Linked DNA regions of Homo sapiens. The protein of the gene in region 1 interacts with the protein of each later gene in a biochemical or structural test. Each region holds a gene or a part of one and is shown on either strand. Other genes may lie near its edges.

Region 1 (3,905 bases):
GGCCGCCCGAGGGGCGGGCGCCGAGAGAAACGTCACTCCCTTCAGCGGCGACAACCCAGAGCGGGGCCACCTTCTCCGGCCATTAGGCTTAGGGAGGGACTGGCCTTTCAAAGACGTTTAATCCCCAGATAAAAATCATTCCTCAGCATCACGCCATTGAAATCTGGCTGCTATTATGCCGAGCAAAATAATCGGAGGAAACGAGGAAAACTTGGGAATTTCCCGTGCTCCTGAAATATCTCCGAGCGTGTTCTCTGAGTAGAGCAGCCAGGGGGCCGTGAGGCCTTGGAGCGAACCGCCTTGGGCACCTGGAGTCCACTTTAATGGCTCAGTCCTAGACGTTTGGGAGCTTCCCATAGGATTAGCGGGGGCGCCTTCCCCTAATTGACTTGGTGCCCCGCCCCCTCCACTGGAACCTGAATGTCCCCACCCCTGAATCATCCATCCGCCCAAAGCACCAACTATCTGCCTCAAACTCAAAGGGCATGGGGAGGTAGAATTCTGTAGGAGCTTCGGAACCTCTAGGCAAAGAGGTACTTGAAAGGGAAGAGGGGCTGGGGGACACCAGCTCCTACTGCGAGAAAGTGAAACTCCGGGTGCAGGGAAGATACCGCACCACACACATTCATCCGCTGGGGTGAAGCCGATGAAACAGAGTTTGGGATCAGATGAGGGATCATGGACCCCTGAGGTCGTTTGGTGGGGGCAGGAGGACAGGGTGCCCAGACATCGGTGTCCTATCCGTTAACTCCCACCCGCAGCGTCTCTGGGCCAAGGCGAGGAGGTCTGGAACCTTCTTCCTGGGTGGGAGTGGAGGGAGGCGCAAGACCCGGCCTTGCAGCCCACGGCTCCCTAGCACCGGCTGCAGGTACGCAGGCGCCGGAGGCCACCAGGAGCCCTCGGGTCCCACACCCCACCCGGCCCCCACCCGGCCCCCTCCCTCTGCGCCTGGGTTCTGGCTACTCACTGGCCGGCGGCGGGGAGAAGCGGGGGCTCTGCATCCACGGGGTCCTCTCGGGCTTCTCGGGGCTCTCGGCTTTGACGAGCGCATCTTCTGGCAGCTTGAGGAGTCCCCCCACCGAGAAATGGCCGAGCGGCCGCGGCGAAGAGGGCGCGTCCGGGGCTCCCAGCGACCCCGGCGGGACGCCCAGTGGCTGCGCCGAGCCACCCGCCGCCTGCACGCCCTCGGAGGGCGCCAGGGCGCTCTCCTTGGCCCCCGGCTTCCTGTGGTCGGCCATGAGCGCCTCCACGCTGAAGGGCAGGAGCGAAGGGGACACTTTGGGCTTGGCCCCCTCCTCGTCCGCGCCCATGGCGGCTGCCGTGGCCGCGGCGGCGCTGGGGGCCTGGCCCGCGCCTCCCCCCGCCGGCTTGCCGAAGGCGGAGTCCTCCACTTTGACACCGAGTGGCAAAGAAGTCATGTCAGCAGCCGGGGCCATGCAGAGCCGGGCCCCCCCTTCTGCCGCAGCACTGGCCAGCCGCCGGGCATGGGCTCCGGGCGGGCTGGGAGCGCGGCCGGCCTCTGCGAGCGCCCGGGGCCCTGGCCGGGCGGACCCTCCCGCGCGCGCCTCCCGCCCCTCCCCAGCAGGCCAGCTCCGGCGTGCTGGGCCTGGCCTCCGGTCGCTGCCGCCGCGCAGGCAGAGTTCCCGGGAGCACTCGCCGGCTCCGGGCCCTACCGCGGCTCCCCAGAGAACTTGCTAATAAGGCGAGGCCAGCGGGGCGGCGGCCAATCAGCGCGCGAGGGGGCGGGCCCGGAGCGATCCATTGGGCCGCGCTCCTGGGGACTCGCCCGGAGGCGCGCTGGGCCTGGGGGCACGCAGGGCAGGGCCCAGGCGGCGGAGGGCAGGGGAGGAGAGGGGGTGCCCGGGAAACTTTCCTCTGCGCTGAAGCCCAAGAGGCCCTCTCTGCGGGAGTCCCCTGGGTCTCTATCTTTCTGTGTTCCCGGGGGATTTTCCCTTGTTCTCGTTCCTTCTCTTCTGCCCTCCTCTCCTCCCCTCCCCTCCCCTCCTCAGCCCTCTTTTCCGCTCCTCTTTTTTTCCCCGTCCTTGTTTCTCTCCTCTACTGCTTCTTTTACCTTTCTCTTTAGTCTGTGGCTGGGTTTCCCTGTGCCCCCCTCCACTGTCTGACCCCCCCTCTTCTTCTACCACAATAATTTGAGTTGAGGTTATTTCTTACACATTCCTTTTATATATAGTTTTTAAAATACGCATGGCTATTTATCCTAGGAGAAAGACATACTATTAACTTCTTTTCAAGAAACGAAACAAAACCAAACCTTCATTTTCTTCCTGTTCTGAAATCTTGTAAACTTTACCTCGAGGTAAAAGTGGGCCTTTGTCTCTAACTTAGAGCTGGAGTAAACCTTGCGGGAAGAAGCTAGCTTCCTGTAGTGCCAAGGATGTGAGAATACGTAAGATTATCTAGAATCTGCAGTCGGTTTTCATACACGATGTGTATTCCCCCCCCCCCACCCTCGCTCTGAACTTCTGTCCCAAGGGTCACAACACCTATAGCGCCCGGGCGGGGAAAGGAGCTGCCAGATCCTTTTGATATAGAACTTACTGAAATAAAACCAACAGAATCGTCAATGAAACACCGATCTGGCCTTAAGGTGACCTCAAACAACGCGTCCTCGGAAACAATGACATGTCCCTATCTCTGGGCCGCTGATCCTGGAGGGGAGAGGCACATTTGGGGGAGGGGGCTGGGAAAAGAGGAAAGTTCCTGGAGGTGGACTCTAGTGTGGGACTTGAGAACTCTTCTTTTGCCAATTTCGGAGAAAACGTGATTTAATGTTTGCTGTTAATAATAATAATAATAATAAAGACAGAAAAAATGAGTTGGGGTCAGGGGAGATGCAAGATCTGCCTGAAGCGGGGTCGGGGCTTGGCCATTTTCTGCGCCTGTCGCTTTATGGCCTCTCCTCCTGCGGCCCAGGCCAGCGGCTCTCAGGGAGTGAGCGGAGGTGATTGGCGGCTCACTCGGCCCTGCCATTGATGACTGCGGGGTTCTAATCTCCAGGAAACACAAGGGGCTGCCGTGGCCATTTAGGGGTAATTATCCGAGCGCGGAGGGACAGCGAATTCCCTCGACTTTTAACTGGGCGCAATAAAAGCTGTAGATTAGGGGCGTCCAGATTAGGGAAAATGAATTAGAGCGGGAACTTTATTATCCGGAAGACGTCCGGGGTCTGGCGGCAGGGGTCGGGCTGCGGACGCCGGAGCGATTGGTAGCCTCCCATCTGTCCACAGGCCGCCGAGATATGCTGAGGCCTGGGGAAGTTCGGGAATACCGGCATCTGAATTTTACGCACATCTCCAGGTTTCTAAAGGACCCAAGACTGCAACTCAGGCACTGGGCAGTGGTTGGGGCTTCTAGCTCGAGTTGGGCCGGCTGGACGCGCGGTGCACCGGGGCCTCCGGAGGTTTGCCCGAGAGGGTACAAGGATAGAAGACCTTAAGACCCAATTTTGAAGCTCAGCTCGCTGAGGCTGAGCAAGGCTGTAGGGCAAATACCTTGCTGGTAGCCCAGCCAGGACAGCGAACAACAGCATCTTCCTCTTCTTCCTCTTCTTCTTCTTCTTCCTCTTCCTCTTTTTCTTCCTCTTTTCTCCTCCTCCTCATCCTCCTCTTCCTCCTCTCCTCCTCATCTCCTCCTCCTCCTCCTCCTTCTTCTTCCTCTTCCTCTTCTTTGAGACGGAGTTTTGCTCTTGTCGCCCAGGCTGGAGTGCAATGGCGCGATCTCAGTTCACTCCAACCTCCGCCTCCCAGGTTCAAGCGATTCCAGGACGGCGAACTTCTATTGCTCCCGTTCTAATCAAACTCTCGTCAGAACAACCCCCTCCGCACCCAGCCAGAATCTCCCTTTGTGGCCAGGTTAAAGGGGGAGAGGAAACAGAGGCCTATCTG
Region 2 (3,905 bases), on another chromosome or scaffold:
ATGCCGTGGTGGGCCATCTCCACGATCTTGTGGCGGATGTGGTTGGGCAGCGGCCTGCCGTTGATAAAAACACCGCCGAGCTGGTTGACGCGGCCCTGGCCGAGGGGAGTGGACACTGTGGGAAGGTGAAAAAGAGAAGCAAGGGAAAAGTCACTGGAGGAAAATAAAAAGCAAAGAACAGCAGCACGTAATTTCGCAGTCTTCTGTCCTATCCTCATGTTACAGCACCGACGCTGAAACTGCTCGACATCGGACTCCCAGACCCAGACCTCCTTTCAATCACATTTGTTCAAATTATTCAGCAATATAGCGCATGTAATCTTGTGTAAAGACAGCAAATGGGGCAAAATAATTCTCCCCAGAGAAAGCGTCTTCCCCTTCGGGCCCGGGGAGTGGCAACTTAGGAGACCCTGCAGCTGGTAGAGAGTCTAGCTTGCTCTAGAAACAGCCTCCTGGCGAAGAGAAGTTCACCCAGGAGCTGGCCTTGATGAACTCTGCTCCCACCGATCCCTGTCCAATTGGGATCTCTCCCTTTCTAAGGGACTTGGGCCAGCTGATAGCCCTTGGGGTTTCTAGCCAAAAGTGCAGCAGCCAAGGGTCAAAGAGGGTCCAGAAAGGAGGCCCAAGCAGCAGTGCCTGTGTCACCTGTTACATCTTGGGACAGAGACCACAGCAGCGGCAGGGCTGTTCCTGGGCCCCCAGCCCCCATTCTTGCTCTGGGTGTTACATTCTACTCTAGGCTGGGTGTGAAGGGAGTGGGTGGCGGGGGCGATGAGCATCTCTGCTGGGGCGCCCTAACCTGGAAAACCATTGAAAACGGCTCAGGCTTGCAAGACTTCCTGCCTCCCCGGGATTCCCAGAATCTTCAAGTGGACGGAAAGGCGATTCCTAAACAAGTTATAGAAACTTCTAGATGCTATTTGAGATACATAGAATTCTAATTTATTTAATTATTCTAAAAATTCCAATCACAATGGCGCGGCGTTAGCCACCACAACTTTGCAGGGCAAAAAAAAAAAAATACTTCCTGAACTAACATATGTTTCACAAGTGTGGGCGCAGCCGGGACAATTTCGAGACAACTTCGAGACAATTTCGAATGGACAAATTGCGGAGAAGTTGCTTCTGCCGCTCAGAAGCCGGTTCACCTCCTTCTCCACCGCGGCATTTCCAAAACAACAGGGACAAGTCTCCCCGGCTCGCCGCAGGCCTGACCGCCCAGCTCCGCCAGGATTTGCAGAGAGCAGCGCGCTCCATTTGCAGAAAGGAAATCGAGTAGGTCCTCGCCCCCGACTGGTGCTTCTTGGGGTGTGGGGTGCCCAGGGAATGGGCTTCCTGGAAGCACCAAAGGAGCCTGCGGAGCCTGGGGATGGGGTGAGGCAGCCGGTCCCAGGCCCTGGGATCCAGGCGGCGCGCTGAGGCCCTCCCTTACCTTCCAGCGGGAACCCGCTACGCGGGTAGTTCTGCCCCGGGCCCGGCCGCATCATCCTGGGCACAGCGCCGGCCAGCGTGGTCATCCTGGGGGCAGCTTCGCTCGGAAATTATATCCAGGTGAAGGCGAAACGGAAAGGCGAGTGCGGCGCGGATGACCCTCGGGAACTATCCGGAGCGTGGAGAGCCCCTCCCCAAAACGGCTGGAGAGAGAGGGAGGGACGCGGGGAGGGGGGCTGTCGGTTCCTAGTCCAGAGGCCGGAGCTGGAACCCGGGAAAGGGGAGGACGGGGAGGCCCCGGAGTCCAGGATCCCGAGCCCAGGGCGGAAAAGTTTGGTACGAGTCTGGGCAAATGTTCCAGCGACTGGGGTCCCTGAAAAGGGGGCTCAGAGAGCCACGGCGAGCCGGGGAGCCTGGTGAGGCTGGAGCGCGGCCTGCCTGAGTCTCCTCCTGTGGTGACACCGAGTGCGGGGATCCGGGCTCGGGAGCATTTATTAGTTCTTTTACCCAAAGCTTGGTCAGGAGCCCTGAGCTGCGATTGGCCGACGGGTAGACCGTCCCGGGTGGCGGAGACACGCGCTGATTGGGCAACAGCGACCACTTTCTCTTCCCATCTCTGGTGGTGCCGAGGCCTCTGCTGGCCCCGAGGGGGACCCGCGCTGCGCCCCTTGCCCAGGAGAGAAGGTTGGCCCGGTGGAAACTGAGAGAGACAGCCCCAGGGAGATGGCAGTTGCTGAGGGCGGAGAAGTTCCTGTCTCTCTGTCTCTGTCTCTCTGTCTGTGTCACTCTGTGTGTGTGTGTGTGTGTGTGTGTGTGTGTGTGTGTGTGTGTGTGTGTGTCTTTCTCTGATCACTCTTTCCTTGACTTTCTATTTCCCTCTCTGTCTCTTTCTGTGCCTCTGTGTGTGTGTCTCGCTCAGCCTCTATTCCTCTTGTGATTTCCTGTGTCTCTCTCTATGTCTCATTTTTTCTACCTGTAGGTCTCGCTCTCATTTCTCTTGGCTTACTGCCACTGGAGGGGGCACAATTCCAATAAGAAGGCATCTGGGGCCCCAGACATATTTAGCTTTCCTTCCTGTGGTCAGTGCCCCTTGGCCTAGGCTTGTTAAGGGGTCCTCCCGATGGGGCTCCTCCTGGGAGGAGTCCAGGGTGCGCTGATGTTCTTTTGTCTTCTCCGTCCGCAAGCGGGGCTAATGTGAAGCACAGGCAGCCGTCGCTAGGCCCAAGCACTCGTTAGTTGAAGGCTGGGGGTATGGGGGAGGGTGCAGAAAAAAACCTGGCTCCTCTTCTTGGTGTAAAAACCGCTCTGGCAAGCTGCGGTTCTAAATCTCTACATATAGATCCCCGATGCGTCGACAGAGATGTGTCTGTATGTTAAAGTTTTGCCCGGGTTCAGCGTTTGTTCTCAGGAATTTATTATGGCATTCAGACTAAACTGCTGGAAAAATAAAAGGAACGAAGTCTTGGCTAGGAGCTGAAGTGTCCCCAGCAGGATATGACGCCAGGAGTGTTGTAAAGACTGTCTGTCCTTAGAGAAGGTACCATTGTGCATAGCCTTTTATTTATAACTTGGTAAGTGCCAGCGAACTCGCCTCCTTTACACCCCCGAGTGCCAGCCCCGCGCTCTGCACTGCGCTTTATTCGCTCGAGCCTATTCAGGGACTGTCACTCCGGGGCCGCGAGGTATTCAGGGCCTTAATCAATCAAAAGGATGAGAATCGGGCAGGTTTTTCCCTTTGAAATAAAGGAAACAATGACTTCTGGGCTTCAAGTTCCCCCTTTTCCTTTTATGATTTTTGAATTTTTCCTGCCCCTGGAGGGAGTTCTCCACTCCTCTCTCTCTGTCCCCCTCCCCCACCTCCTTTGACAGTTTTGACGTGAACTCGGGCCCCCAACCCTACTTCCCCATTCCCTAATTAAGGCAAACTCAGAAGGCAAGATGTAGGGGGGTGTGGGGTATAGCCGCTCAGCAGTCCACAAGTTGGCCCTTTAAAAACCCACTCACCATTGGGGAAACCAGGCAAGCTTTCAGCCTGCCTGATGCCAGAAGGCTTGGTTGACCCTCAGAGCCACGGAGACAGGTCTCAGGAGACTCCCAGAAATGTCTGGACCCATGAAGGAGGCATGTGCCTTGTTTAACCTGGTTTTACATTAAATGATTCAATTTTTCAAGGGGAAAATTTTCTCATTTTCTTTTTAAGGCGTTGGGGCCACCAAAGCCTGTGTCCGTACGTTTTAAGCCACTTCTCAGCGATAGCATTTTGAGAGCTAGACTTTTTCCAAGTTTTCTTCTTCCCAAAGGTTAAGCAGAGTCGACAGAGCACTTTCTGGGGTCAGCGGTAATTGCTGTGTGAAGGAGGTACCAGAAGTGTAATTTCAAGAAGGCAAAAGTAGGCTCAACTCTCAGCTAAAATAAACTCTTGGACCCCGCGAGCAGTTAAAGAACATCTAGAGCTGAGTCTCATTTGTTTTTGA

The links.
Region 2: the proteins of MSX1 (region 1) and PAX3 form a complex in vitro, tested with the Homo sapiens proteins (one study listed by BioGRID).

What each region holds. Positions count from the first base shown.
Region 1 is NC_000004.12:4,857,431-4,861,335, reverse strand, and holds the start of MSX1 (homeobox protein MSX-1), read right to left. Parts: upstream 1,672-3,905; 5' UTR 1,437-1,671; coding exon 968-1,436; intron 1-967. UniProt on the Homo sapiens protein: Acts as a transcriptional repressor. Capable of transcription autoinactivation.
Region 2 is NC_000002.12:222,297,099-222,301,003, forward strand, and holds the start of PAX3 (paired box protein Pax-3), read right to left. Parts: upstream 1,901-3,905; 5' UTR 1,518-1,900; coding exon 1,433-1,517; intron 1,276-1,432; exon of another isoform or gene 1,049-1,275; intron 116-1,048; coding exon 1-115. UniProt on the Homo sapiens protein: Transcription factor that may regulate cell proliferation, migration and apoptosis. Involved in neural development and myogenesis. Transcriptional activator of MITF, acting synergistically with SOX10.